Homo sapiens: one gene and its partner. The protein of the gene in region 1 interacts with the protein of each later gene in a pairwise test. Each region holds a gene or a part of one and is shown on either strand. Other genes may lie near its edges. The genes, in order: ZNF398 and ZNF783.

Region 1 (16,254 bases):
CTGAGGGAGGGCTCTTAATTAACATTCCCATTTACACCTCTCCATGGCCATTTCTGTCTCCAGGGCTTGTCTCCCCACCCCACTCCCACGTTTTCTACCCTTTCTACATGATTTTCAAATCGTCTTCTGTCTTTCCCCATCCCCATAATTTTGGTTCGTCTGTATGCACTTGTTTTTCTTCTTCTGACAATTCTCATTTGTCTTTGCATGTAAGAGTGTATTTTCTCACTCACTTCAAATTTATCTTAGTGACTGTTTGGTTTCATTCATAATGTTGAGCATGGCTTTTTCTTTCCCTCATTCTTCTCCCACATATTTGCCTCTACAAATTTCACCTGCTGTTTCTTCAGTCAGTCCTGGCATGAGCTGGATATGGACATGAACACCTCTTTAATTTCATACTCACCAGCATAAGTGCTTTTGTACACGTCACTCTCCTTGGACTCCGGTGGGGCCCCAACCTGAGGCTCTTCTTCTTGTTTAATCCAAGACAGAATATCTGATGTTGAAATACCAGGCTCTAATTTGTGGGAGGAAAAAAAAATGGCCTTCATGAACTTGAATAAGAAGGTAAGATAATCAAGTTGGTTTGCTGAACACTATATTTTGCCCCAAATATTTTTCCTTTCTTTTTTTCTTTTTTTGAGACAGAGTCTCGCTCTGTCACCCAGGCTGGAGTGCAGTGGCACGATGGCTCACTGCAAGCTCCGCCTCCCAGGTTCAAGCCATTCTCCCCGCTGCCTCAGCCTCCCGAGTAGCTGGGACTACAGGCGCCTGCCACCACGCCCAGCTAAGTTTTTTTTAAATTTTTTTGTTTTTAGTAGAGATGGGGTTTCACCGTGTTAGCCAGGATGGTCTCGATCTCCTGACCTCATGATCCGCCCACCTTGGCCTCCCAAAGTGCTGGGATTACAGGCTTGAGCCACCGCGCCCGGCCCCAAATATTTATTTCTAAATAACTATAACAATAACACAGAACCAGCCTTTTAAAAAATGCATACAGGATGGGTGTGGTAACTCACGCGTGTAAGCCCAGAACTTTGGGAGGCCGAGGCAAGTGGATCATTTGAGGTCAAGAGTTCAAGATGAGCCTGACCAACGTGGCAAAACCCTGTCTCTACTAAAAATAAAAAAAATTAGTCAGGCGTGGTGGCAGGCGCCTGTAATCCCAGCTACTCAGGAGACTGAGGCAAGAGAATTGCTTGAACCTGGGAGGCAGCGGCTGCAGTGAGCCGAGATCGCACCATTGCACTCCAGCCTGGGCAACAAGAGCAAAAAAACTCCATTTCAAAACAAACAAACAAACAAAAAACAAATCAACTTCCAGAATTACAAAGTTAGTTCAGTATAGACACAGAATCCAACTCCCTAGAAACACACTTTTCAGATTCCCAATTCTGGGCTCTTTCTATGAGATATATTATCTTTGTCTATTAAATGATACAAGTCATTGTTTCCTAAATGCTGGGAGGGGGAAGAATATAGTATTGGCAAGTCCTTCAGGTCTTGGGGGTTCTTTCTGAAAGAAAAAGTGCACAGCCAATATCGGCTTTGCACACAACATGCCTCATCTGATCAGTACCAAAACAGCTGTGCTAGCTATTACAACCTAGGCCTATATGGCTTTATTATTTTTTTTTTTTTGGACTAAATGGACAAGTTGGCAAGCTGACAAGAGAGCTTGTCAAGCTCCAGAGAGTCCCCTGAAGCTCTCTATAGTTATTTCTCAAACACAGCCTTGTGGGCAGAATATGGTTTAATTCACAGCAAATTAACAGAACTGACTACTTTACCCAATGTCTTCTAAATCAGTTAGACGCCACTGAAATCTAAAGGTGTTCTCAAAGCAGAAATAAGAGGCTGGGGTAAGACGAAAGCCCAAACGACCATCGGTTATGGGGAGCGATTTGGGAAATAGATTTTAGCATATGCAACAGTTGCCTTGCCAACCTCCTGTTCTGACCTAAAAGAAAAGCTGAAGTGTATTAAACATAGTCCAATCTTATCTTTGTTCTCTTCCAGATGTTATACACATACATATCTATAAGGAAAAAGGCAGAGGGGGGGAAAGACTGGATATAAGGAAGAAAACCTCTGAACCGATATCCAGAGGATTAACTTTCCATTCAAAACATCTGACTTTTGTTTGTTTGTTTGTTTTTGAGACAGGGTCTCACTCTATCACCCAGGCTGGACTACAGTGGCGTAATCTTGGCTTACTGCAATCTCTGCCTCCCAGGCTCAAGCTATTATTCCACCTCGGTCTCCCTAGTAGCTGGGACCACAGGTGTGTGCCACCATGCCCAGCTAATTTTTTGTATTTTTGGTAAAGATGGGGTCTCACTATGTTGCTTAGGCTGTTCTTCAACTCCTGAGCTCAGGTGACCCACCTGCCTCAACCTCCCAAAGTGCTGGGATTATAGGCATGACCCACCATGCCTAGCCAAAAAACCTGACTTTTAAAACACTTACCTGCTTGTTTTTAAAAATTTTCTGAATGGGCTGGGCACAGTGGCTCACGCTCATAATCCCAGCACTTTGGGAGGCTGAGGTGGGCAGGTCACGAGGTCAGGAGTTCAAGACCACCCTGACCAACATGGTAAAACCCTGTCTCTACTAAAAATACAAAAATTAGTTGGCTGTGGTGGCACGCGCCTAGCTACAATTACTTGAGGAAGGGGGCTACACTAAACAACAAATTTTCATGTATGAGAAACAACTTTCTATTGGAAGAATATGTCATCTGGGACTTTCATAACTAGAGAGAAGTCAATGTCTGGCTTCAAAGGACAAGCTGACTCTCTTGTTACAGGCTGATGCAGCTGGTGACTTGAACCCGGTGTTCATTTTAGTATTCTGAAAACCCTAGGGCTCTTAAGAATTATGCTACATCAGGCCGGGCATGGTGGGTCACGCCTGTAATCCTAGCACTTTGGGAGGCCAAGGCGGGCGGATCACCTGAGGTCAGGAGTTTGAGACCAGTCTGACCAACATGGAGAAACCCTGTCTCTACTAAAAATACAAAATTAGCTGGGCGTGGTGGTGCATGCCTGTATTTCCTAGCTGCCCAGGAGGCTGAGGCAGGAGAATCGCTTGAACCCAGGAGGCGGAGGTTGCGGTGAGCCGAGATAGCGCCATTGCACTCCTGCCTGGGCAACAAGAGCCAAACTGTGTCTCAAAAAAAAAAAAAAAAAAAAAAAAAGAATTATGCTAAATCTACACTGCCTGTGCACTAGAAATGGAACAACAAAGCCTGGATGACAGCACATCTGTTACAGCACGGTTTACAGAATATTTTAAGCCCACTGTTCAGAACTACTGCTCAGAAGAAAAAATTCCTTTCAAAATACTAGTGCTCATTGACAACGCACCTGGTCACCCACAAGCTCTGATGGGGATGAACAAGGAGATGAGTGTTGTTTTCATCCCTGTAAAACAACATCCATTCTACAGCCCCGCAGATCAAGGAGTAATTTTTACTTTGAAGTCTTATTGCATAAGAAATTTATTTCAGCATCAATGCACTCCAGCCTGGGTGACACAGCTAGACTCTGTCTCAAAAAAATAAATAAACATATTTCAGCCAGGCATGGTGGCTCACGCTTGTAATCCCAGAACTTTGGGAGGCCGAGACGGGTGGATCACCTGAGGTCGGGAGTTCGAGATCAACCTGGCCAACATGGCGAAACCCCGTCTCTACTAAAAATACAAAAAAATGAGCCAGGCATGGTGGTAGGCGCCTGTAATCCCAGCTACTCAGGAGGCCGGGGCAAGAGAATTGCTTGAACCTAGGAGTCGGAGGTTGCAGTGAGCCGAGATCGTGCCACTGCACCCCAGTCTGGGCGACAGAGCAGGACTCTGTCTCAAAAAAAAAAAAAAAAAAAAAAAAAAAAATAGAAATTGCCACAGCCACCCCAACCTTTAGCAACCACCACCCGGATTAGTCAGCAGCCATCAATACTGAGGCAAGACCCGCCACTAGCAAAAAGATTATGACTCTGAAGGTTCAGATGATTGTTAGGATTCTTAGCAATATTTTTAAATTAAGGTATGTACATTGTTTTTTTAGACATAATTTATTGCCAACTTAATAGACTGTATAGCATAGTGTAAACTTAACTTTCACATGCACTGGGAAAACAAAAGTTATTGTTACTTGTACTGTGATATTCACTTTATTGCAGTAGTCTGGAACTGAACCCACAATATCCTGGAGATGCCTGTACTTGCCTTTAATGCTGTTTCCATATTAACTAAGTATTTATCACACACTGTGGCCGTAACTTTTGCAGTTTGAGGTGCAACAGTAGCACTAGTACAAATTTCTTTTACTTTCTTCACAGTTTCACAGATAGAAGATTTGTTCTTACCAGAGATCTTGGCAACCTCAGCATGTAACTTCCTTCCTTCCTTATTAAGTCAAGAAATTTCACCTTTTCACATAAAGGAAGCACTTGACGGCTTCTCTGATACATCTGAATTGCCACCATTACTACTTTTGCAGTTTGGGGCAATTATTTATTTTTAAAAAGGGGGGGAGCGCGGGGTACTTAACATAAGCACTGCAATACTGCCACAGTTGACATAGCTTCTAAGTGACTAATGGCCAGGTAGCGTATACAGTGTGGATGCACTGGACAAAGGGATGATTCACGCCCCAGATGAGACAGGGCAGGATAGTGCAAGATTTCATCATACTACTCAGAATGGCAAACTTAAAACTTATAAATTATTTCTGGAATTTTCCATTTAATATTTTCAGATCACAGTTGACGGCAGGTAACAAACTGTGGAAAACGATACCATCAATAAAGGGGGACTACTGTATGTAGTCTCTATGCTGATACAAAACTTCCCCTAAATGATGAGTGGTTGGCTGTACCTAACTGCAGTCACGTACCATGTAACATTTGTATAGTAGTACAAAGGTTTATATTTGTGCTGAATATAAGGACAGTTTTGAGCAAGACACATGGAGTCATGCACTGCATAATGGTGTTTTGGTCAAAAACAGGCCACTGTCGAGCATGGTGGCTCACATCTGTAATCCTAGCACTTTGGAAGGCCAAGGCAGGCAGATCACTTAAGTCCAGGTGTTTGAGACCACACTGGGCAACATGGCTATACCCCATCTCTATAAAAAAATAAAAAAATTAGCCAGGTGTGGTGGTTTGAGCCTACAGGCTATTTGGGAGGCTGAGGCAGGAGAATCACTTGAACCTGGGAGGCGGAGGTTGCAGTGAGCCAAGATCACACCACTGCACTCCAGCCTGGGCTACAGAGCAAGATTCCATCTCAAAATAAATAAATAATAAAAAGTAAATCCCAGCACTTTGGGAGGCCGAGGCAGGTGGATCATGAGGTCAGAGGCGGGTGGATCATGAGGTCAGGAATTTGAGACCAGCCTGGCCAACATGGTGAAACCTCGTCTCTAATAAAAATGCAAAAATTAGCCGGGCGTGGGGGCGCAGCATGCCTGTGATCCCAGCTACTGGGGAGGCTGAGGCAGGAGAATCACTTGAACCCAGGAGGCAGAAGTTGCAGTGAGCGGAGACTGCGCCACTGCAATCCAGCCTGGGCGACAGGGCAAGACTTCATTTCAAAAAAATAAGTAAAAAAATTTAAAAATAGGAAAAAGTTATAGAAAAAGGGTATAAAGAAAAAATATTTTTGTATATATGTACAATATGTTTTACACTAAGTGTTATTACAAAAGTCAGAAAGTTATAAAATAATAAAAGTATATTACTATATTATAAAGTAGTATTATAAGTATATTACTGTATTATAAAGTAATACAGTAAGCTAAGGTTAATTTATGGTTAAAGAAAAAATTTCTTGGCCAGGCGCGGTGGCTCATGCCTATAATCCCAGCACTTCGGGAGGCCAAGGTAGGTGGATCATGAGGTCAGCAGATCGAGACCATCCTGGTTAACATGGTGAAACCCCATCTCTTCTAAAAAAAAAAAAAAAAAAATTAGCCGGGCGTGGTGGCACGTGCCTGCAGTCCCAGCTACTCAGGAGGCTGAGGCAGGAGAATCACTTGAACCCAGGAGGCTCAAAAAAAAAAAAGAAAAAATGTTTCTATAAATTTAGTGTGGCCTAAGTATACAGTGTTTATAAAGTCTACAGCCTAGTAATGTCCTAGGCCTTCACATTCACTCACTGACTCAGTGAGAACAACTTCCAGTCCTGCAAGCTCCATTCATGGCAAGTGCCCTATAGAGATGTACCATTTTGTATTTTTTTTTTTGAGATGGAGTCTCGCTCTGTTGCCCAGGCTGGAGTGCAGTGGTGTAATCTCGGCTCACTGCAACCTCCGCATCCTGGGTTCAAGCAATTCTCCTGCCTTGGCCTCCCGAGTAGCTGGGACTACAGGCGCCCACCACCATGGCTGGCTAATTTTTTGGATTTTTAGTAGAGACAGGGTTTCACCGTGTCAGCCAGAATGGTCTCTATCTCCTGACCTCATGATCCACCCGCCTTGGCCTCAAAGTGCTGGGATTATAGGCATGAGCCACTGTGCCCAGCTCATTTTGTATCTTTTACACCAGATTTTTGCTGTACCTTTCCTATCTTTACATGTGTTTACAAACACAATTACCATTGTGTTACAATGGCCTACAGTATTCAGGACAATAATATGCTGTACAAGTTTGTAGCCTAGAAGCAATAGGCTATACTATATAGCCTAGGTACATAGAAAGCTACATCATCTAGTTTGTGTGAGTTCACGCTGTGATGTCTGCACAATGACAAAATCAACTAATGATGCATTTCTCAGAAGATATCCCCATTGTTCAGCAGCGCATGATTGTGTTTGTCAAACAGTGTGGTATATGCAGAACACGTGCTTTCCTTCTATGAGTCTGGAATTTGGGTAAGTGCTAGACAGAGGGTATGCATGTGATTAGCCCCCAATAAAAACCTTGGGCACTGAGTCTCTAATGAGCTTTTCTGGTTGTTACAACTCATTACTGGAACAATTAAGCATATCCTATAAGACTCCACTGGGAGAGGACTCTGGGAAGCCTGTCCCTGGTTTCCTGCAGACTTTGTCCCAGGTACCTTTTCCCTTTGCTGATATTACTTTGTATCATTCTAACAAATCTTGCTGTGAGTACAACCATATGGGAATCCTGTGAGTCCTCCTAGCAGATCACGAAATCTGGGAGTGGTCTTTGGGCCCTCCAACAGAGCCAGGAGCATATTTTTTTTTAAGAAAACAAGTACTGAGGTTGGGTGTGGTGGCTCAGGCCTGTAACCCTAGCACCTTGGAAGGCCGAAGCAGGTGAATCACTTGAGTTCACGAGTTCAAAACCAGCCCGGGCAACATGGCAAACCCCCATCTCCACAGAAAATACAAAAATTAGCCAGGCATGGTGGTGTGTGCCTGTAGTCCCAGCTACTTGGGAGGCTGCGATGGGAGGATGGCTTGGGCCCAGGAGGCACAGGCTGCACTGATCTCAGATCATGGCACTGCACTCTGATCATGGCACTGCACTCTAGCCTGGGCAATAGAGCCAGACCTTGTCTTAAAAACAAACAAACAAACGAAAGAAATTGTGAAGCTGACAATTTGATCAACCAACAGAAAATAACAGGCCAGGCACGGTGGCTCATGCCTGTAATCCCAGCAATTTAGGAGGCCGAGGTGGGTGGGTCACCTGAGGTCAGGAGTTCAAGACCGGCCTGGCCAACATGGCAAAACCCCATCGTTACTAAAAATACAAAAATTAGCTGGGCATGGTGGCACATGCCTATAGTCCCAGCTACTCAGGGGGTTGAGGCATGAGCATCTTGAAAACCCATGGTAAAAACAAACTGACAAGATAACAGCAAAATGAAACTTTGATACGTTATCACAAAACCTAATTACTTGTTATCTTTTTCACCCATCCCATAAAATACAATGATATATTCATTTGTACTTGCTGAGGTCTATGACAGATAACTAATAATGTAGACCAAAGAAATATACCCAATAAGAAATCTTTCTGTAGTCAAGTCACTCATCTTTATTGGTGGTATTATTTTAGCCTCATTACTTATATCTGTGATATAAAGATTAGTAAAATGCAACGTGTTACACTGACTAAATGCAATCACCTACACATTCTTAAAAAATAATATGGCCGGGCGTGGTGGCTCACTCCTGTAATCCCAGCACTTTGGGAAGCCAAGGCGGGTGGATCACTTGAAGTCAGGAGTTTAAGACCAGCCTGGCCAACATGGTGAAACCCCATCTCTACTAAAAACACAAAAATTAGCCGGGCGTGGAATCCCAGCTACTCAGGAGGCTGAGGCTGGAGAATCACTTGAGCCTGGAAGGCGGAGGTTGCAGTGAGCCAGGATCACGCCACTGCACTCTAGCCTGGGCGACAGAGTGAGACTCCATCTCAAAATAATAATAATAATAATAAATGTGAGGCAGATGTGTACATTGCTTAAAACTCAATTAAGACTTGAAATTTCATTATATGTAAAATTTACCTGAAAAGAAAAAAACAAATATTGAACTCTAGGTTAATAATATTCATGCTGAACTATTTACAGGAAAATGCATTGATGTCTTCACTGATTTTGAAATACATCAAAAATAGGATAGATGGCTGGGTGCGGTGGCTCATGCCTGTAATCCCAGCACTTTGGTAGGCCAAGGCAGGCAGATCACTTGAGGTCAGGAGTTCGAGACCAGTCTGGCCAACATGCTGAAACCCTGTCTCTACTAAAAATACAAAAATTAGCCAGGCGTGGTGGTGGGCACCTGTAATCCCAGCTACTCAGGAGGCTGAGCCAGAGAATCACTTTAATCCAGGAGGTGGAGGTTGCAGTGAGCCAAGATCGCACCACTGCATTCCAGCCTGGGCGACAGAGTGAGACTCCATCTCCAAAATAAATAAATAAATAATAGACGGATGGCTGGATGGAGTGATGCAGTGATAGATATATGCATGATAAGGAAGGATGGTATAATGTTAGTGGCAGAATTTAGGCGCTGGATATCCAGGTGTTCACTATAAAAATATTTTAACTTTTCTGATTGAAAATTTTCATAATAAAATGTTAGAAAAAAATAAATGTGGCGGTGGCTCAGGCCTGTAATCCCAGCACTTTGGGAGGCCGAGGCGGGTGGATCACGAGGTCAGGAGATCAAGACCATCCTTGCTAACATGGTGAAACCCCATCTCTACTAAAAAATAGAAAAAATTATCCGGACGTGGTGGCGGGCGCCTGTAGTCCCAGCTACTTGGGAACCTGAGGCAGGAGAGTGGCGTGAACCCAGGAGACGGAGCTTGCAGTGAGTCGAGATCGCATGAGCAAGACTCCGTCTCAAAAAAAAAAAAAAAAAAGAAAAGAAAAAGAAAAAAATAACTATATGGGATAGCGGGTGGGTTGTAAGAGAAGTTCATATAATAGAGATGCCCGGAGGATCAACTTTCTGTGTGCTTCTATCCATCAAAGAACAAAAAAGTGTATGAGAATTTTCTGACAGCAAGGTGAGGCATGAGAGAAACAATAAAACTGGACTTTGGTTGGCAGTCTTTCCCACACAATGTTAAGCAGCTGCCAACCAAAAAGTTAGGAAGAGTTCATGATAGCCAGCTTCCCAGACCTGAGAAAATCCATGTTGCCCAGGTGGATGTCATCAGTGTCTACTGGTTCCATGCATCTTAGAGGGACCATGCAGACTCCTAGTCCCTTCAGCACTTATGAAGGGCCATGCTTATATTTGCTCAAGCCAATTTAGTCCAGATGAGCATGACTGCCTCCTTCATCATGTAAGGACATGTTTATTTTATTAAACAGCTAGGTGTCAGTACTTCTGTCAGGAAATGCAACTTGTAACTGTTAGGTGTGTAGTACTGATAGGTGAAGACACTGGACAAGGTGACCTCTAAGCTCCCTTTTATATTTAAATGCCTGATGACACATTCAAAATCTAGTTGCTTTAGCAATGAATGGCTCTAGAAGCCCCTAAGCCCTGCTTAGCTCTGAGCCACCATGTCTGACCAGGAAAGGGAGACAAGAAGTAGGAATCTCTTCTCCCACTTACCTTCACTGGGGTCTGTGGGAATCTCACTTTCCTCTGGCCCTGCCTGGTCCTCTGTATTATGTTCCCCTTCTGGTTGAATCTGAGATAAGACATCAGGTTGATTTATAGCATAATCTAGGAGAGGAAAAAGGAAGAGAGAGTATTACAAAGAGATAAATGAGGATGACAACTAATTGCCATCAAGGCTGAGCTGAAGCTTTGTGGTCACAGTGCCAGGGAATTTCTTTTAGATTTCATATCACTTCTTCCCATCTATCCATCTTCAGCTGTGGATATCTATTCAGGAAAGCAGGCAGTGGAGATGTAATGTGTGGGGAAAGCACATGTGCTAGGTTAGCACTGCTTTCAGAGTGACAGTGTGCCTCAAGGGGGAGAAGTCAAGCTCCTTTCCAAGTGAAGGATACCCATGGAAACCACCAGCTGTCACACCCATAACCCTGAACTTCATTCTCTGTCCTACAATTTGGTAAAAAGAGAGATTATGATTCCTAGTTAGCAAGCATTAATTGGTCATATTTTGGCTTGAAACCAGAATTTGAAGTGTGTGAAGACAGAGTGAGAATGAGGTCACTGGAGGAAAAGGGACTGTTCTGAGCCCTCTTGGAGCTGCTGTCACTTCATTCAAAAGGTGTCAACTCAGCCTCACCCATGGAGATGAGAGACTCGTAGTTGCCCTTCATGATATTCTTGTAAAGTTCCTTTTGCCATTCTTCTAATTTTTCCCACTCTGGAGTGGAAAAGTAGATGGAGACATCATCAAATGCCACAGGCACCTAAAATTACAATCACATGGGTTAGTCCCTTCCATTATAATTCAGTCATTCAATAAATCTCTTTCCAATTAGTTCCTTTTATTTTTTTTACATTTTCAAAGGGTGGTCAATAAATATTCTAAATATCTCTGAAATGGTTTCTTTTAATGCTTCACTTGTCATTAGAAAATCCTAAAATCCTAGTACTCATGCAATACAGCACGAGTCCCTTAAATAAAGCTGGTACCTTTTCTTGAGGCACATTCGAGTATTTTGGTAAGCAGTAATAAAATATCTAAATACCATGTATGTTAAAACTTCAAGCTTTATTGAGTCTTTGATTTCACCTCTTTTAAAATGCCTTTTCTCTAAGAACATCACTCTCCAGGAGATCCAAATTCCTCTATTTGTTTTCTTTGTGTTGTTTCTAGTTCCTCTAGTCTTTTGCCAAGTACAGAGTTCCCTTTGATGCTGTTCATCGTGCACATGAGGAGGAAAGGATAATACCATGGCTGATGACTGAGAGCAAACAGGATTGATTTTGGAGGCATGTTAGGAACCAAAATTAAACTTCAAAATTCATTATGTCTTCTGTGTGTATCCTTTAGTCTTTTCTGAAGCTTTGTACATTCTTCAAATGGAACATTTTGTCTATTTAAAACCCAATTTTCTGTTTCCATTTCTTCTCTACCTGCCTCCAAGATTTACACCTTGTCCTGCCATCTCTTCAATTGTTTTCACGGCAAGATTTCCTGTTTTTCTGGGCAACTGCAGCTCACTGCAATTTCTCTTTAGCTTGACTGTACATTTCCCTGAGATACATTCATGAAGCATATGCTTTTCTTCTAACTGCTGTGTCTGTTCTTTTTCCAATGTCTTTTTGACTTCTAGTTAGACTTTCTCAGCTTGATTTCTTATATTTCAGCATTCCTGTTTTAATGTCTCCATCGTTTCTTTCAGCATTCGGTTCGAACTCTGCAAGTGAGGTAACTTGGATCTGAAAACTACTGATTTACTATTCCAGGTCAAAATTTTCGTTTTTTTCTTCCTCTGCATTTTCTTTCTTTCTTTTCTTTTTTTTTTTTAGAGACAGAGTCTCGCTGTACACCCAGGCTGGAGTGCAGTGGCGCGATCTCGTCTCACTGCAACCTCTGCCTCCCGAGTTCAAGCAATTCTCCTGCCTCAGCCTCCCAAGTAGCCAGGATTACGGGCACCCGCCACCACACACCGCTAATTCTTGTATTTTTAGTAGAAATGGGGTTTCACCACGTTGGTCAGGCTGGTCTCGAGTTCCTGACCTCGTGATCCACCTGCCTCAGCCTCCCAAAGTGCTGGGATTACAGGTGTGAGCCACCGTGCCCGGCCTCCCACAATTTCTTTTCACACTGATGCTTTTCACATTGCTTGCAGACATCATGATCCACTTTCATTTTCTATCTGCTAACTTGTTTTCAAATTCTAGCTTTTCATCCTGTAATGCCAGAAGTCTTTTACAACCTTCTTCCTTGGCATCTGGTGCCTTACATATTAATATATGATCTTTTTTTACTAAGGGCACTTTGTGGTGTTCAATAGCTGGTCTCAGAATTTCATTGTCTGACAGTAAACCATCCAGTTCACTTTGAATCTTTTTCCTTTCCCTTTCTAGCTCACTCTTGCTGCCTCTAGTTTCATGGCTGTTATTTCTAGTATGCTTGAAAGTTTCGTTCTTTGACTTTAGTGCTCAGTGTATTTCTTTCTTTCTCTTTTTTTATTTTTATTTTTATTTTTTTGAGACGGAGTCTTGCTCTGTCACCCAGGCTGGAGTGCAGTGGTGCGATCTTGGCTCACTGAAAGCTCTGCCTCCCGGGTTCACGCCCTTCTCCTGCCTCAGCCTCCCAAGTAGCTGGGACTACAGGCGCCCACCACCACGCCCGGCTAATTTTTTGTATTTTTAGTAGAGATGGGGTTTCACCGTGTTAGCCAGGATGGTCTCGATCTCCTGACCTTGTGATCTGCCCGCCTCGGCCTCCCAAAGTGCTGGGATTACAGGCTCAAGCCACTGCGCCCGGCCCTCTTTCTTTTTTTAAGATGGAGTCTTGCTCCATCACCCAGGCTGGAGTGCAGTGACGCTATCTCGGCTCACTGCAACCTCTGTCTCCTGGGTTCAAGCAATCCTCCTGCCTCAGCCTCCCAAGTAGCTGGGATTACAGGTGCACACCATCACGCCTGGCTCATTTTTGTATTTTTAGTAGACACGGGGTTTCACCATATTGGTCAGGTGGGGCTCGACTCCTGACCTCAAATGATTCACCTACCTCAGCCTCCCAAAGTGCTGGGATTACAGGCGTGAGCCACCGCCACCACTCCCAGCCTGGTCAGGGTATTTCTTTCTTGTTCAGTTTTATGTAATCTTTAATGATTAAAAAGGTACTTTGGCCAGGCGCAGTGGCTCCTAGAACTTTGGAAGGCCAAGGCGGGTGGATCACCCAAGGTCAGCAGTTTGAGGCCAGCCTGACCAACATGGCGAAACCCTGTCTCTACTAAAAACACAAAAATTAGCTGGGCTTGGCCGGGCGCGGTGGCTCACCTGAGGTCGGGAGTTCAAGACCAGCCTGACCAATATGGAGAAACCCCGTCTCTACTAAAAATACAAAATTAGCCAGGGGCGTGGTGGCACAGGCCTGTAGTCCCAACTACCTGGGAGGCTGAGGCAGGAGAATCGCTTGAACTCGGGAGGCGGAGGTTGCGGTGAGCCGAGATCACACCATTGTACTTCAGCCTGCACGACAAGGGCAAAACTCCATCTCAAAAAAAAAAAAAAAAAATTAGCTGGGCATGATGGCGCATGCCTGTAATCCCAGCTACTCAAGAGGCTGAGGCAGGAGAATCGCTTGAACCTGGGAGGCGGAGGTTCCAGTGAGCTGAGATCACGCCACTGCACTCCAGCCTGGGCGACAGGAGTGAAACTCTGTCTGAAAAAAACAAACAAACAAACAAACAAAACAGGTATTTTGTTCATTGTTTGATTGTGGCTCTTTTTCCGAGCATTTAACCTACAGTTTACGTGACATTTTTGGCCTACTGGGACCTGACTGTAACTGCATCTCAGCCAACTGTCACACCTGTATTCTTAGGACGTTTTCTAACTGAGCACCAGAATTCTCTTTTTCAGCCGTTAAATCTGCTACTTCAGCCTCTGAATGAATATATATATATTTTTTGAGACAGACTCTCGCTCTGTTGCCCAGGCTGGAGTGCAATGGCACGATCTCAGCTCACTGCAACCTCCGCCGCCCCCCTCCCCCCACCCAGGGGTTTGCCATGTTGGCCAGGCTAGTCTCAAACTCCTGACCTCAGGCGATCTGCCCACCTCGGCCTCCCAAAGTGCTGGGAGTACAGGCGTGAACCACTGTGCCCAGCCAGCCTATGAATTATTTTAATTTCTGAAACAAATGGACTTTTTCTCAAACAAGTTCCTCTACTCATTTGTTGCCTCTTGTGGGATCAACACTAAGCAGCTGGTTATATAGTTCTACATCTTTCCCCAGTCTTGCAATCTATAATTCAGGCCAGGTGCACTGGCTCATGCCTGTAATCTCAGCACTTTGGGAGGCCAAGGCAGGAGCATCACTTGAGGTTAGGAGTTCGAAACCAGCCTGGACAACATAGTGAGATCCTGTCTGTATAAAGAAATTTAAAAATTAGCCAGCTGTGGGGCCAGGCACAGTGTCTCACACCTGTAATCCCAGCACTTTGAGAGGCCGAGGCGGGCGGATCACGAGGTCAGGAGATCGAGACCATCCTGGCTAACATGGTGAAACCCTGTCTCTACTAAAAATATAAAAAAATTAGCCAGGCGTGGTGGCAGGCGCCTGTAGTCCCAGCTACTCGGGAGGCTGCGGCAGGAGAATGGCGTGAACCCAGGAGGCGAAGGTTACAGTGAGCCGAGACTGCGCCACTGCACTCCAGCCTGGGCGACAGAGCGAGACTCCGACTCAAAAAAAAAAATTAACCAGCTGTGGTAATGCACACCTGTAGTCCCAGCCACTCGGGAGGCTGAGTCAAGAGTCTCACTTGAGCCTTAAGGCTGCAGTGAGCCAAGATAGCACCACTGCACTCCAGCCCAGGCGAGAGCAAGACCCTGTCTTGAAAAATATATAAATAAGTAAAAATAAAAATAAATCTCTAATTCAAATTTTAGAGTTTTTTTCTAAACTACATGTAAATTCTTCTTCCTAGTGTTTCAGATTCTATTTAAGAAATGTATGTTTATAGCAAAGCTTGCAGCTCTATACTTTTCCACTTCTTCATCCCAATTGCAAAAACACTGGAGTTTCTAATTCTTGCTGTATTTGGGCTTTTAACAATTCCCCTTTTTTTTTTTTTTTGGAGTTAATTACCTGCAGCTTCATTTCTTCTAAGTCCTTAGCTTTTCTACTAATTCCCCTCTTAGTTCTTCAAGCAGGAGCTGAAGTTTTTCCTGGTATGTTTGCTTTTCATTTAATAGGCACTTGAGTACTTTTTGCGACTTTATGTACTCATCCTGCCACCTTGTATGCTTGTATGTTAGGCATTCAGAATCTGGTAACTAGTTGTTTTTGGTTTTGGTTTTGTTTTGTTTTGCTTGTTTTTAAGACAGGGTCTCACTCTGTCATCCAAACTGGGGTGCAGTGATGTGATCATTGCTCACTATAGCCTCGACCTCCTGAGCTCAGGTCATCCTCCGATTTCAGCTTCCTGAGTAGCTGGGACGAGTCAGGAAGTGACATGCCACTATGGCGAGTCAATCTTTAGAAACATAATTTTTGTAGGGATGGGTCTGGCTATGTTGCCCAGGCTGGTGTCCTACACCTGGCCTCAAGCAATCCTCCAACCTCAGCCTCCCAAAGCCCTGGAATTACAGGCTTGAGTCACCACACCTGGCCTAAAAACTAGTTTTTGCCTTTCCTCAATATTTTTTGGAAGTCAGGTTGTCAGCCCATTGTCTCTACTAGGAAAGAAAAAAGTTAGGAAAAGATCCTGGTGGCAAGGAGCCAGAGCAAAGAGGAGGAGGGATAGACAGGGTGAGGAGGTGGTGGTGGGACAGGGAGAAGGCAGGGCAAAGAGGAGGAGACACAGTGCCAAAGGGGCGCTGGGGAAATCTGAGGAATCCTGGGAGAGCTCCAAGGGTCAAGAGGGCAGCGTTGGGGAAAGCCCACCTCCTCCTGACAGGCCTCCTTGGGGTGCAGAGCAGAGACACCACCTCAGCCAGCAGCCCGCCCCCACTCTAGCCCCCTCAGTCTAAAAATCTTTACTGTTTACTAAGTGCCTCCTGACTGAGAAAACTATATGGGGTACTGAAAGGATACAGGAAAAATAAGGCACAGACCAATCTCTAGGAGTTCACAATGATTTCAAGAAGAAAGGTGATAATCTAAAGCTGTGAGCTTCTGGAGGGTGGAGGACTCAGAGTTACTCAGAGTT
Region 2 (16,381 bases), 94 kb from region 1:
AGGTTGCAGTGAGCCAAGACTGTGCCACCACACTCCAGCCTGGGTGACAGAGTGAGACTCCGTCTCAAAAAAGAAAAAAAAAAAAGAAAAGGAAAAAAAAAAGAACATATATTGGAATAAGGATGGTTATTTCAATAAATGGTGCCAGGAAAACTGAATATCCATATGCAGAAAAATAAAACTAAACTCCTATCTCTCATCATATACAGAAATCAAATCAAAATAGATTAAAAACTTAAATATAAGACCTCGAACTATCAAACTACTACAAGAAAACATTGGGGAAACTCTCCAGGACATTGTTCTGGGCAAAGATTCGAGTACTACCCTAAAGCACAGACAACCAAAGCAAAAATGAACAAACGGGATCACATCAAGTTAAAAAGCTTCTGCACAGCAAAGGAATCAATCAACAAAGTGAAAAGACACCCCACAGAACGGGAAAAAATATTTGCAAATTATCCATCTGACAAGGGATTCATAACCAAAATATCTAAGGGGCTCAAACAAATCTATAGGAAAAAAATCTAATTACCCAATTAAAAGATAATCTGATTAAAAATGGGCAAAAGATCTGAATAGATATTTCTCAAAAGATGGCATACAGCTTGGGCATGGTGGCCCATGCCTCTAATCTCAGTGCTTTGGAAGGCTGTGGCAGGAAGATTGCTCGAGTCCAGGAGTTCAAGACCAGCCTGGACAACATGGCAAAACTCTACCTCTACAAGAAATACAAAAATTAGCTGGGTGTGGTGACACATGCCTCTAGTCCCAGCTACTTGGGAGGCTGAGGTGGGAGAATGGCTTGAACCCAGGAAATCGGGTGCAGTGAGCTCTGATTGTGCCACTGCACTCCTGTCACATCTGGGCAACAGAGTGAGACCCTATCTCAAAAAAAAAAAAAAGTACAAATGGCAAACAGGTATATGAAAAGGTGCTCAACATAATCGATCATCAAAGAAATGCAAATCAAAACTACAATGACATATCATCTCATCCCAGTTAAGATGTCTTTTATCCAAAAGACGGGCAATAACACATGCTGGCGAGGATGTGGAGAAAAGGGAACCCTCGTGCACTGTTGGTGGGAATGTAAATTAGTGCAACCACTATGGAGAACAGTATGGAGGTGCCTCAAAAAAACTAAAAGCAGAACTACCACGTGACCCAGAAACCCCACTGCTAAGTAATACCCAAAAGAAAGGAAATCAGTGTATCAAAGAGGTATCTGCACTCCCATGTTTACTGCAGCATTATTCACAATAGTCAAGATTTGAAATCAACCTAAGTGTCCATCAACAGACAAATGGACAGAGAAAAGGTGGTACATATACACAATAGAGTAATACTCAGCTATAAAAAAAGAATGAGATCCTGTCATCTGCAACAACATGGGTGGAACTGGAGGACATCATGTTAAGTGAAATAAGCCAGGCACAGAAAGACAAACTTTGCATGTTCTCATTCATTTGTGGGAGCTAAAAAGTAAAACAATTGAACTCATGGAGACAGAGAAGTTGAATGATGGTTACTGAAGGCTGGGAAGGGTTGGGGGAAGGTGCGAGGGGGGAAGTAGAGATGGTTAATGGGTAAAAAATATAGTTAAATAGAATGAATAAGATCTAGCATGTGATAGCATAACAGGGTGACTACAGTCAACAATAATTTAATTGTACATTTTATAATAACTAAAAGTATAATTGGAATGTTTATAATACAAAGAAATAATAAATGCTTGAGGTATGAATATCCCATTTACCCTGAGGTCATTATTACACATTGTATGCCTGTATCAAAATATCTCATGTACCCCATAAATATGCACACCTACTATGTACCCATAAAAATTAGAGATTAAAATAGAAAGAGTTCTAAAGGAAAAAAAAAACTCATCCACACTCAGTAAGAGAGGTGCCATTAAAACTACACTGACAGACTTCTTACTATTACACTGAAAAGAATCCTACAAGTTTGCCCTCTGTTGGCATGAGAACCTTTCTCACAACACAGATGAGAATGCAAATGATACGAGCCCTATGGAGGGGAATTTGGAGATAAATTCTCCCCAAATAACATATTCATTTACCTTTTGACCCAGAAATCCAACTTCCAGGATTACATCTCAAAGATACATTGGGGCTAGGCACAGTGGCTCATATGTAATCTCAACACTTTGGGAGGCTGAGGAGGGTAGATCACTTGAGGTCAGGAGTTAGAGACCAGCCTGGCCAACATGATGAAACCCCGTCTCTGCTAATACGAAAATTAGCCAGGCGTGGTGGCGCACACCTGTGGTCCCAGCTACTCCAGAGGCTGGGGCTCCAGAATCATTTGAACCCAGGAGTCAGGGATTACAGTGAGACGAGATCGTGCCACTGCACTCCAGCCTGGGCAACAGAGTGAGTGAGACTCCTTCTCACAAAAAATAAATTTAAAAAAAAGATACGTTGGCAAAAACATGAACTGATTTATGCACAACGTACTCCCTGCAGCATTATTTATATCAGCAAAATACTGGAAATACCCTAAATGTCCAAGGTACAGACTGTTAAATAAACTATCATACCACAGAACATTCTGAATCCACAGAAGAACTGAGGAAGATCTGTACATAATCATATGAGGTGATCTCCACAACCTACTGAATAAGACAGGGGTGGGAATACAAATATATCTCTGTGTTATTGAAACATGGTAGTATAAATAAGAAAGGAATCAAGATGATTATCTATAGTGAGAGGCCACAAGGATGGAAACGAGACTTCCTTGAATCTACCCTGTTAAATCATTTTGACTTCGCAAACATAAAATATCTTACATATTCAAAAAATTAAGTTAAATCAAAAACCAAAAAGAATAATCAATAAAAAATCTAAAAATACACAAATGAATGCAACTGTATACCAAGCTGGTGACATAACTACATAGAGAAAATATTTCAAGTGACTTTAAAAGGCATTATTTTGCCCATAAGTCCTGCATAGAATGTATACAGAGGACAAAAAGAACTGCAAAGAAATCTTGTATTTCAATGGAAGTCTAATTGTTAATAGTATTATGGCTTCACTGTTTTGAAATTGTAAGATAAATTATAGGATAATGAAGTGGTAGGACTGGATATAAGATCATTTAAGAAATTATGCAAATTTCGTTGAGAATTTAAGATTGCCACCTAAAAGGAAAGTGATAAACAATATAAAATCAAAGAGCCAGGCTGGGCGCCGTGGCTCACGCCTGTAATCCCAGCACTTTGGAAGGCCGAGGCAGGCAGATCATGAGGTCAGGAAATCGAGACCATCTTGGCTAACACGGTGAAACCCCGTCTCTACCAAAAATACAAAAAATTAGCCAGGCGTGGTGGCGGGCACCTGTAGTCCCAGCTACTCAGGAGGCTGAGGCAGGAGAATGGCATGAACCCGGGAGGTGGAGCTTGCAGTGAGTGAGCTCGCACTCCAGCCTGGGCGACAGAGCGAGGCTCCGTCTCAAGAAAAAAAACCAAAGAACATTAAATTTGAATTAGAAATATCAATGTATAAACTCATGATTTCTTTTTTCTTTCCAAAAATATGTATTTTCTGAACAGGCCTAGAAGTAGTGCCAAAAATCAGCAACAATTAACACTCACATTGTAATCTCTAAATACCACTCCTCACCAATAGAAATCAAAAATCCAGAGACATTTTGATTCCAGGTCTGGAGCAGGAAGCACACACATAAATCTGGCACACCTTATGGTGTCTGAAAGCCACTGAGGTCACATCAGAATAACCTATGGGCCAACTTAAAAAAGAGGCTCCCACTAGCTAAAGATGGGACAGTTTAAGCAGGAAAATCATGGCTGCAAAGGCCTAGCACATATGAAATATCCAATTATCTGTGAAGTCACAATAACTTAACTCAGGAAAAAAAAGAAGCCCAAGTCATGGGTCACCTTTGGAGGCTACTAAGGCAGCAACTCTTCATTCATTCTGAAACTGATAAAGGAAAGAATTAAGCATCCATTCTGCCTTTTCAGTGCAGACTGAATCTCAGGGTAACTAAAAAAGCTGACTAGCATTTTCGGAGGCAAAAGTAGGTGGACTGCTTGAGCCCAAGAGTTTGAGACCAGCCTGGGCAATATAGTGAAACTCTGTCTTTACGAAAAAATACAAAAATTAGCCGGATATGGTGGCGTGCACCTGTAGTCTGACTAAAAAAAATGCAATGGTGAAAAGACTCCCTTCCCTATTCAATAAATGTTGCTGGGGTAAGCCATCCCATTACTGGGTATATACCCAAAGGATTATAAATCATGCTGCTATAAAGACACATGCATACGTATGTTTATTGCAGCACTATTCACAATAGCAAACACTTGGAACCAACCCAAATGTCCAACAATGATAGACTGGATTAAGAAAATGTGGCACATATACACCATGGAATACTATGCAGCCATAAAAAATGATGAGTTCATGTCCTTTGTAGGGACACGGATGAAGCTGGAAACCATCATTCTCAGCAAACTATCGCAAGGACAAAAAACCAAACACCGCATGCCCTCACTCATAGGTGGGAACTGAACAATGAGAACACATGGACACAGAAAGGGAAACATCACACACCAGGGACTGTTGTGGGGTGGGGGGAGGGGGGAGGGATAGCATTAGAAGATATACCTAATACTAAGTGACGAGTTAATGGGTGCAGCACACCAACATGGCACATGTATACATATGTAACAAACCTGCACATTGTGCACATGCACCCTAAAACTTAAAGTATAATAATAATAAAATTTAAAAAAAATGTTGCTAGGGTAACTAGCTAGACATGTGCAGAAGAATGAAGCTAGACCCTTACCTTTCACCATATGCAAAAAGTAACTCAAGATGGATTAAAGATTTAAATGTAAGACCTCAAATTATAAAAATTCTAGAATAAAACCTAGGAAATACCCTCCTCGATATTGCCCTTGGCAAAGAATTTTTGGCTAAGTCCTCAAAAGCAACTGCAACAAAAACAAAAATTGACAAGTGGGACCTAATTAAACTAAAGAGCTTCTGCAGAGCAAAAGAAACTACCAACAGAGTAAGCTGACAACCTACAGAATGGGAGAAAATATCTGGAAACTATGCATCTGACAAAGGTCTAACATCCAGCATCTATAAGGAACTTAAATCAACAAGCAATAAATGGGCAAAGGACATGAACAGACATTTCTTAAAAGAAGACATGCAAGCGGCCAACAAACATGAAAAAATGCTCACCATCACTAATCATCAGAGAAATGTAAATCAAAACCATGAGATACCATCTCACACCAGTCAGAATGGCAATTATTAAAAACTCAAAAACCGTCAGATGCTGGTGAGGCTGTAGAGAAAATGGAATGCCTATACACTGTTGATGGGAATGTAAGTTAGTTCAGCCACTGTGGAAAGCAGTTTGAAGATTTCTCAAGGGACTTAAAACAGAACTACCATTTGACCCAGCAATCCTGTTACTGGGTATATACCCAAAGGAAAATAGATCATTATACCAAAAATATACATGCACACGTATGTTCATCACAATGTTATTCACAATAGCAAAGACATGGAATCAACCTGGGTGTCCATCAGTGGTGGACTGAATAAAGAAAATGTGGTACATATACACCATGGAATATTACATAGCCATAAAAACGAATGAAATCATGTCCTGTGCAGCAACATGAAGCTGAAGGCCATAATCCTAAGTGAACTAATGCAAGAACAGAAAACCAAATATTGCATGTTCTCACTTATAACTGGGACCTAAACAATGAGCACACATTGACATAAACCTGGCAAAAATAGACACTGTGGACTACTACAGGGGGAAGGGAAAGAGAGGAGAATGGATTGAAAAGCTTGGGTACTATGCTCACTACCTGGGCACAATATACCCATGTAACAAACCCGCAGGTGTATGCCTATATCCAAATTAAAAGTTGAAATTTTTTTTAAAAGTACTCAATTGTACACTTTAACAGGTGAATTATATAGTATATGAATTATATCTCAATAAAGCTGTTGAAAAAGACTGGGGGGATTGTCATAAGTTTTTTTAATATACTTCAGAGACGTAAACCAAATGTAAAATGTGGACTTGGGTGTATTACAATTAGGATCCAAAGACCCATAGAAAACATTTTTGAGACAACTAGGGAAAACAAAACAAAGGCTAGGTATTAGATGGTATTAGATGATATTCTGATATTCTGTGGGTGTGATCATGGTATGTGGTCATTGTTCAGGAAAAGGGTAAAAACAGATGGATGAAGCGCATGTGGCAAAACCCAGCAGAGTGTTGAGTTTTGGTGACGATCATTTGGAGATTCGCTGTGCTATTCTACTTTATTAAAATTTAATTGAAAAAATAAAGCTCCCCAGAGGATTGTGATGTGCAGTCCCCTTTGGAACCACTGTCCTATATACCAGCTACAAGGACAGGGCATGCCTGGCCCTCCTACCAAGGGCCATGTACACAAATGGAAGCCAGCACGTGACATGCCTTCCTGCCACAGGCTGGGGTTGTGGGACTGCAATAGGGGACACAAGCAATAGCGGGGACATGGACACACGTGAAGATGCCAGGAGGCAGCAGTGCTGCTGGTGGAGGTATTACTAAGTCCCCATTATTTTTTTTTTTAGATGAAGTCTTGCTCCGTCACCCAGGCTGGAGTGCAGTGGCGCAATCTCGGCTCATTGCAAACTCCGCCTCCCGGGTTCACGCCATTCTCCTGCCTCAGCCTCCCGAGTAGCTGGGACTACAGGCGCCTGCCACCACGCCCGGCTAATTTTTTGTATTTTTACTAGAGAAGGGGTTTCACTATGTTAACCAGGATGGTCTCGATCTCCTGACCTCATGATCCGCCCGCCTCAGCCTCCCAAAGTGCTGGGATTACAGGCGTGAGCCACCGCGCCAGGCCAGTCTCCACTATTATAAAGTGATCAGTATGTACATGCTTAACACTTATCACTCAGTCATCACAACCACGTAAGGTGAGTGTGATGTTCCACCTTAGACAGATATAGAAACCCTATGGCTCAAGCCAGCCACCCACTCCTGCCCAGGGTGGCCTTGTACAGAGTGGTCCCACTTTGGGTTAATGGTCTATGCTCCCTTCCTGCCCTCCCTGATTGTCTGGGAAGCCCGAGAGGGTAGGCGATGGTGCAGCTAGCCCCTGGCGGCCCCCCAACCACATCTGGCTCCTATACTTACCAGTGCCCATCATCCTTGGACGTCCCACCTCTACTTCATTCCCCTTCTCCTGGCCCCACCGGTCAAGACAAGGCTCCTCTCCCCTCTCTATCCGGGTGAGGATGTCTGGTTTGGAGATTGCATAATCTGTGCACAGAACAAGAAATGAGGAAGAGCTGGACCCCACATGCCCACAGAGATGCAGAGATGCCCAAAGTACCAAAAGCCAAAGCAAAGACACAGACTGTCCACAGACAACCTGTGGACAGAGGCCCAGATCCTCCCTCCGTGGCCTTACCCAGGGAGACCAGCGTCTCGTAGTTGCCCCTCATCACGTGCTTGTAGAGCTCCTTCTGCCAGTCCTCCAGCTTGCCCCACTCCAGCTCAGAGAAATACACGGCCACATCATCGAAGGTCACGGGCACCTGGAACCATAAGTGTCGCACTCACTCACCCACACGCTCACAGGCTCAGCCCCTCGAGCTCCCCCACCCCAGGGTGTCCCGGTGCTACCTTGGGGGCCTCCCCCTTGCTGCCCGGGGGCAGCCGCAAGATCCAGAAGTTCCTGTTGCGCAGCAAGTTCTCCACATTCTCCAGCCGCCTCTGCAGCAGCCCGTACTCCTGCAGCAAGGTCCCCAGCACGGCCCACTTGCCCTCCAGCTGGTTCCCGAACTCCACAGCTGTCTTCTCGCAGTCGGCCAGCTTCTTCTCGGCTGTCCCCGTGCGCCCCTCCAGAGTCAGCAAGCGGGTCAGGCAGGAATCCACCTTCTTCTCCAAGGCCTGAATGGCGGCCACCACCGTCCACAGTGTGATTTCCGTGGAGTAGAGGTACGAGTTCTTCTCAGCAGCTGGCTGGGGCAAGGGTGTCGAAGGACTCTGGTCCTCTGTGTGCTTGTCTGTCTCGGGGTCCTGCTCACAAGAAGAGAAAAGAGAGATGTTATGAGAATTATACAATCAAAACTTCCACCTCAAAAACACACTTCGGAAATGACACCTGCCATGGTAAAGTCCCATCTGGGCTCCTGAGTTAGCAGCAGACTGGGGGGGAGAGGGAGAGGCTAGGGTATCAGTTAGGAATCCAGCCTAACTGATACAAGAGATAGTGGCTGGACCAACGTGTCAGCAAGTGGGAAAGTGGAAGAAAAACAGCCCCGGCTCCTGTCCTACAGGCTAGCTATGGAGACGGGGCATGCCCCACAGGCTTGAGCAACCACGTGCAGTCTCAAACAAGTGACTCCCCTTCTTGGGTCTCAGTTTCCTCTTCTAAAAATGAAAGGACAAGGCTTTGTGGCACAGAGAACATGACTCCCCAGTGGACAGCCCAGGTGCAACTCAGCTCTGCCACTTACAAGCTGGCCAACTGTGGGCAAGGTGTTTTCAACAGCTTCCAACTTCCCTTCCCTATCTAGAAAATGGAGATAATAATAGTACCTATACAATAGCACTGAGAGAATTAAGAAAAATCTGTGTACAAAGCACTTAGTACAATGTGTAGCACAGCACAGATAATAAACATGAGCCCCATGTTGCAGGGCTAAGATGACACTGACTGCTATGGAATGAATGCTTGTGTCTCCCTCAATATCCATCTGCTGAAGCATTAATCCCCAATATGCCGGTATTTGGAGGTGGAGCTTCTGGGAGGCAATTAGGCCATGAAGGCAGAGCCCTCATAAATAGGATTAGCGCCCTTGTAAGAGGAGACACAAGGGAGATGATCTTGCTGTATGCCACGTGAGGATACAATGAGAAGGCAGCCGTCTGCAAACCAGGAAAAGAGCCCTGCCGGGAACCAAGGCAGCCTGAGCAGACTGAGACAATGACAGTGATTATGGTGATGGTTCCAGCTCAGGGATATGGTATAAATAGTTCATATGGCCTTTTTTTTAACCTCCACCTCTTTTATTCCATTGTCCTTCAGTGCCTTGGAAAAAGCTTCTCAAGTGCCTCAGCTTACCCTGGTATCTGATTCACAAGCCCTCATTGTGCATGCGCAATGGGCACAGTCCTGGTTGGTGCTGCTAAAAGCCTTGTTGGAGAGACAAATCAACATCTCACTCCTCAATTTCATTCATCCTTCATGGTTAAATCACCATCAGGTCCTAACTTCCAAAATTACCTCAAATCCATCCATGTTTCTCCTTCTCCACTGCCAGTGTCTAGTCCAAGTTCCCATCACCTTGCTTGGCCTGGGCCACTGCGGTCCTGCCCACCTGATTTCCCCACTTCCAGCCTTCTCCCCCACTTCCAGCCTTCTCCCCCACTTCCAGCCTTCTCCCCCACTTCCAGCCTTCTCCCCTACTTCCAGGCTTCTCCCCGACAATACACTTTCCACAGAGTAATTGTTAATCTTTTTTTTTTTTTTTTTTTTGAGACGGAGTCTTGCTCTGTCGCCCAGGCTGGGGTACAGTGGCGCAATCTCGGCTCACTGCAACCTCCACCTCCCAAGTTCAAGCGATTCTCCTGCCTCAGCCTCCCAAGTAGCTGGGACTACAGACGCCCGCCACCACACCCAGCTGATTTTTATATTTTCAGTAGAGACAGGCTTTCACCATATTGGCCAGGCTGGTCTCAAACTCCTGACCTTGTGATCCGCCCGCCTCAGCCTCCCAAAGTGCTGGGATTACAGGCGTGAGTCAGTGAGCCACTGCTCCCGGCCTGGTAATCTTTTAAAAACACAAATAGATCATTTCAGTACCCTGCTTAAAACTCTTCAATAGCTTCCCAGTGTACCTGGCATAAGATCTAGACTTCTTCATGGCCCAGCCGACCTCTCTTGACCTTGAGCCATCCAGTTCCTGTCGTGCTCCAGCCATGCCAGCCTCCTGTGGATTCCGAGGACCCACCCGGCCCTCCTCCAACTTCACATCAGCTCTCAATATGCATCCTCTGTATGCCTGAGTCTCTCTCGTTTTTAAGATTCTAGCATAGACAACGCATCCTAGAGATTTTCACTGCCCCTCCCCCTTAGCACTAGTAATCTATAATTGCTTCATTCATTCAATAACAATTACTGAACACCTATCATAGTAAATGTACAGTGAAGATGAAGAAAAAACTGATGTGGTTCTTCCTTCTCCAGGAGAAAAATTCTGTATAGGAATACTTATAAACAACAACAGTGTGATAGGATGGGCTAACAAGAGTCCAGGGCAAATCTGTCCCTTTTGGGGAGTTTTTTGGGATCTCAAGTGCTGCAAGAAGGGAGGAGCAGGTGGACAGGAGTGATCTGAAAGGTAGTGAAGCAGTGAGCCCCAGGCTAGGGGGAGTGGATGATGTCACCTTCTAGGGCCCCCTCTTCCCAGGGAACAGGACTATAAACCTGCAGAATCCTCAACGCTTTTTCTCTCCCTTGCACTCAGGGAACCCAAAAAGAAGCTCAGCACACTCACTAAGAGGAGGGAGAGGAAGTTATACTTTAATAAAAGTATCCAGAAAAATCAAGGTTTCAAAACCTTCACTGAGGTGTATTAATAATAGTAGGTATCATCTATTGAGCCTTTACAAGCGTTTTCCAGTATGTCAAAAATGGCCAAAGGATTATAATCTCCCAATTGGACATACTGCACTATATCAAACCAAGATTCTAAAATCTGCTAAACTGGCCTAACTTATATAGATGAAGATGCCAAAAAAACTGATGTGATTCTTCCTTCTCCAGGAGAAAAATTCTGTATAGGAATACTTATAGTGTATTCTTATGAATAAACTTATTCATATAGATATGTATCTGGACAGATAGATAGATAGATATAAATGAGACAGGCACCTGCGCCTGTAATCCCAGCTACTTGGGATTGGGAGGCTGAGGCAGGAGAATACCTTGAACCCGGGAGGCAGAGGCAGAGGTTGCAGTGAGATGAGATCCCGCCACTACACTCCACCCTGGGTGAGAGTGAGACTGTGTCTAAAAAAAAAATATATATATATATATATATACACACACACACACACACACACACACACACACACACACACGTATATATATATACTTTTTTAATTAAAAAATTTTAAAATGGCCGGGCGCGGTAGCTCTCGTCTGTAATCCCAGCACTTTGGGAGGCCGGGGCGGGCAGATCACGAGGTCAGGGGTTCGAGACCAGCCTGGCCAACATAGTGAAACCCAGTCTCTACCAAAAATAGAAAAATTAGCCAGGCGTGGTAGCAGGCGCCTGTAGTCCCAGCTACTTGGGAGGCTGAGGCAGGAGAATCCCTTGAAGCCGGGAGGCGGAGCTTGCAGTGAGCCGAGATCGTGCCACTGCACTCCATCCAGCATGCGCAACAGAGCGAGACTCCCTCTCAAAAAAAAAAATTAAATAAAATCTGCTACAGTAATCTTTTTTAAAAAAATCTACTATCTCTCTTGTAAACGACACAATCTTTCTCTTTGGCAAAAGTAGAATATGAGGCGTTTTAAAGTGTCTAATTCCAAAATCCCTGCCCCGGCGTGAGGCTCCCGCCTCTAATAGATGCGTGACCCTGGGCCTGTCCCTTCCCATCTCAGCCTCCGCTACTGTCCCGTGGGGCTGGCGGCCCCTGCCCGCCCAGCCTGCTGTAGGGGGGGCCGCGAGGCCTCAAATGGGACAATACTCCTAAGGCGCGGCCTCCTCGTCGCCGAGCGTGACTCTGGGGCCCGGCCTGGCTGAGGCCGCAGATGGGCCGGATCGTCAGCCGCTGACGTCGGGGCCCCGCCCGCCGGGCCTGGCATTTGGGCCGCCCGGTCAATGCCTTCGACGCGGGCTGGGCGATGGGCCGGGGGCAACGAGCGCGGAGGCTGCGCGCAAGGCCCTCTCACCCCGCGGCCTCGCGCGGCCAGAGTCCCTCGCGCGGGCTCACGCGGCGGCGGCCTGGGCCTTCCGGGCGTCCGCGGGGCCGAGGGCGCTTACCCGGGCAGGCGCCGCTTCGGCCATGGCTGCCCGCGTCCCTCGCTGGGTTGCAGTCCCTGGACCCGGCCTGTCGGGCCCGGGGCGGCGCGGCAGCGACGGCGGAAGCGGAGCGGGACCCGCCTAACCTGAGAGCTACTGCCGGGCGGCAGCGAACTGCGTCCCGAGCCACGTGCCCCGCTGGCCCTTTAAAAAAGAGCTGCGCTCGGCGGCCGAGCTTGAGGACGCGCACAGCGCCCCCTGCAGCCCGTAGGACCGCACGCCCGCGGCCGCCGCCCCGCGCCCTCCCGAGGCCTTCAGCGCCCGCGGCGTCCGGGACCCAGGCGCGGCCACCCACCCTCACCCGGGGCGCGGGAGTTGACGCCAGGGCGGGCGTGCCACGGCCTCCAGCGGGGCTACGTCAGGCGTAAGCCACTCCCGGGCCAGCGCGGCGCCCAACCTCTCTCTGCGTCCCACGCGGGAGCCGGGAGGGCTGCGGGAAGGAACCGCGCTGGAAAGTGCGAAACCTCGCGAGGGAAAGCTGCGTGGGGAACGGGGTCGGCCCTCGCCGGGGCTCCAGTCCGGACCGAGACTCTGTTGCAGCGCCTCCCACGCACCACAGAACTGAGTTGGGGAAAGTAAAAAGGATACGTGTGTACCCAGGGAGAAGCCAGGGAAACTTACATGAACGTTTTTAAAGTCTCTTTTAAATTTGACAGAACAAACGTGAAGATGGTAGGATTTTTTTTTTTTTTTTCCTAAGCCTGCCCTCCCCTCCTGAGGACTCTGGGGTCCCTTCCTCCTCCCGGGGCCCGCCTGGTGAAAGTCCTCAGCCACCCACGAGGACCCTTCTGTAGCTTTGGTCCAGGCTGAGATCACAGCAAGTGTGAATCAGTCCATCCCTCATTTAGGCCCTGAGGCATCTTGAATAAACCGCAGGACCCATTTTCCTCGGCCTGTGCTGAGGCATATTGAACTAAATGTGCTGTATGCAGTTGAAGCTTTGTTTTCTGTCTTTTCTGCATTTCCCATTCATCTCACAGTCTTTGTCCAACAAGCTGGCAAACTCTTCCCGCTAGAAATCTGCAGTTTTGTTTCTTTCTGTGTTTGGGTTTGTTTGGGGTTTTTTGGTTTTGGTTTTGTTTTTTCTTTTTTGGGGGGGGGGGGTGAGGGTGAGAAGTTATTTTCACAAATATTTGAGCCAAGCAAAAGCGTGGTCAACTATCAGAAAAAACACAAACTGATATCCTAAGTAAGGTGAACCCCAAAATTTGCGGAAAGGTTAGGACGTGTTACTTTAAGGTAACAAATCAAATAAATATTTGGCATTATTCATTTTGGAAATTCTTGTTGAACTATCCCAATCTAAAACACAAACTGCAAGTATGCACTAAAGACATTAAGAGCATCCCTAGGATCTTATCAGGGATCAGTCCAATCTATTCAGGATTATAAAATACCAGTAAATGGTGACGTTATAGAATAACAGTTAAGGTCCAATGCAAACAGAAAGGGTCAGGAAAATGGGCCAGGAGCCGTGGCTCATGCCTGTAATCCCAGCAGTTTGGGAGGCTGAGGCGGATGGATCACCTGAGGTCAGGAGTTCGAGACCAGCCTGGCCAACATGATGAAACCCCATCTCTACTAATACAAAAAATTAGCTGGGTGTGGTGGTGAGGTACTCTGGAGGCTGAGGCAGGATAATCGCTTGAACCCGGGAAGCAGAGGTTGCAGTAAGCCGAGATCATGCCATTGCACTCCAGCCTGGGCAACAAGAGCAAAACCCCATCTCAAAAAAAAAAAAAAAGAAAAAGAAAGAAAGAAAGGGTCAGGAAAATGGGCTGGAGACAAAAATGCTAGGATTTAATGAGCTCTGTTGAGGAAAGAGTGCTATAATGTTTGACAGCTAGTCTTCGTTTTTTAGAAAAAAAGTTTCTCTAAGTCAGTGGTACTCAAACTTCAGTGTGCATCATGTTCACTGAGGGTTCTTGTTAAAAATACAGGATGCTAGGCACAAACCTCAACATTTCTAGGTCTGAAACAGGAGGGGATGAAAGTGATGCGAATTTGCAATTCTAACTAGTTCCCAAGAAATGCTGATTCTATTGGTCTGGTGATCACAGTTCGAAAACCTTGGCACTGTTTATCAGGGTCCCACAGCTACCTCCCATTCCCATGCTCAGATTTTATAAATATATTTAATAAACGAACACTTTGCACCATAATGTGGTTTCTGAGCAGACCAGCCGGGGTGTCAAGCCAGCTCTGATATAAATTAAAATTACATGGTGGCTTTTTTTTTTTAAGACGGAGTTTCGCTCTTGTTGCCCAAGATGAAGTGCAATGGCACGATCTCGGCTCACTGCAACCTCCACCTCCCAGGTTCAAGAGATTCTCCTGCCTCAGCCTCCCGAGTAGCTGGGATTACAGGTTCCTGCCACCATGCCAGGCTAATTTTTAGTATTTTTAGTAGAGACGGGGTTTCACCATGTTGGCCAGGCTGGTCTCAAACTCCTGACCTCAGGAGATCCACCCACCTCGGCCTCCAAAAGTGCCGGGATTACAGGCATCAGCCACCACGCTCAGCCTACATTCATCTTTAATTGTTAATCTGTCTCTTGTGAGTTTGTTTTTTGGGGGATCAGATTTCCAGGACCTGATTATCTCTGGGTGAACTGACAACATCCAGTGGAGGCCCAGTCCGTGGAGTAACAAGGGTGACTCCACCTGCAGAAGGTAGGGTTGTCACAATTTGAGGGCCACCAAAGTAGTACCCAGGGTCACTCAACAAGAGGTCAGCACACTCAAGTGCCATTGTCCCCACCAGAACATCCTCAGCCAAGAGATAGTGGCAGGTCAGAGACAGAATTCCTGTGGCTCCCTCATCCTCCAAGCCAGGAATGTAATTTAGATTAGGAGGTGGACCCACACAGAATTATAAAGATGTTAGGAACGGAAGCATTAGTAGAGGGAGACCAGAAGTACAGCCAAATCCCACTTCCTCCATAGAAGCCTTCTCTATTTCAGACAACACCCAGCTCTCTATTCTGTGAACACCCATTATACTTTCTCATTCAGCAAACATTTGCTGAGCACCTATGTGCCAAGCACCTGTGCTGAGAGCTGTGGAGGCTGATAGGAGTAAGACATGGTCCCTCCTGAGGCCAGGCGCGGTGGCTCACGCCTGTAATCCCAGCACTTTGGGAGGCCGAGGCGGGCGGATCACGAGCTCAGGAGATCAAGACCATCCTGGCTAACACGATGAAACCCCGTCTCTACTAAAAATACAAAAAATTAGCCGGGCGTGGTGGTAGGCGCCTGTAGTCCCAGCTACTTGGGAGGCTGAGGCAGGAGAATGGCCTGAACCCAGGAGGCGGAGCTTGCAGTGAGCTGAGATGGCGCCACTGCACTCCAGCCTGGGCGACAGAGCAAGGCTCCGTCTCAAAAAAAAAAAAAAAAAAAAAAAAATGGTCCCTCCATTCCCACAGCATCACATCCTGTGACTGTTTCTTGGTCTTATCTATTGTTCCCTTCCCACTGCAGCTGCACCCAATCAGGTAGGTCCTCACTGGCTCTTCCTTGATCTCACTTGAAACCTTCTAACATATCCCAAACCTCACACCCCCCAAAAAGCACAGTATAATTCTTATTAGTATTCCCAAATCACAGCTAGAATCAGGTCACTCTTTTGCTCAAAATTCTTCAGCTCCCCATTATCAACCGAATAAAATCCAGACTCCTTGAAGCCTGACCCAACTCTTAACACCCACTACTCTCCTTCTCACACTCCACCCTCCCGAAATTGGATGAACTCCTCTTCTGTACATGTCCCATAATGTCTCCTGACTTGGTCATGTCACCTCCATTTAGAATGTCCTTCCTCCCATCCTTAAAAGGCCAGTTCAAATACCACCTATCACGAAGTCTTCCCTAATGTCTCACATCTAAAATAATTGTTCTCTGAATGCTTAAAGCCTTTTACCCTCACTTATCTGAAGACATTACTATTCTATCTTATATTCCCTTAGTAGCCTGTAAGTCCAAGAGCAAGATTTATCCCTGTACCCCTCTGTAGAATTCTGCACAGGGAGGATACTCAGATATTTGTGAGTGAACAAACTCTAAGGCAGAATGGAATACTGTCCTCACCTAGGAAAGGGCTGTGCAAAGGTGCAGTAAAGGAAGAAAACTGATTTTGAAAGAACATAAACTCAATAAGGGCAAAGATCTTTTTTTTCATTGATGTGTATTTAAAATAGTGTCTAGATAACAGGGACTCAATATGTATTTGTTCAATGAAAGAAATGGATGAG

The links.
Region 2: the proteins of ZNF398 (region 1) and ZNF783 interact in binary tests that used the Homo sapiens proteins (3 or more experiments, as listed by UniProt).

Annotation. Positions count from the first base shown.
Region 1 is NC_000007.14:149,160,734-149,176,987, reverse strand, and holds part of ZNF398 (zinc finger protein 398), read right to left. Parts: intron 10,831-16,254; coding exon 10,704-10,830; intron 10,172-10,703; coding exon 10,058-10,171; intron 521-10,057; coding exon 407-520; intron 1-406. UniProt on the Homo sapiens protein: Functions as a transcriptional activator.
Region 2 is NC_000007.14:149,258,069-149,274,449, reverse strand, and holds the start of ZNF783 (zinc finger protein 783), read right to left. Parts: upstream 12,255-16,381; 5' UTR 12,117-12,254; coding exon 12,093-12,116; intron 11,979-12,092; exon of another isoform or gene 9,940-11,978; intron 9,422-9,939; exon of another isoform or gene 9,383-9,421; coding exon of another isoform or gene 9,326-9,382; intron 8,116-9,325; coding exon 7,720-8,115; intron 7,632-7,719; coding exon 7,505-7,631; intron 7,354-7,504; coding exon 7,228-7,353; intron 1-7,227. UniProt on the Homo sapiens protein: May be involved in transcriptional regulation.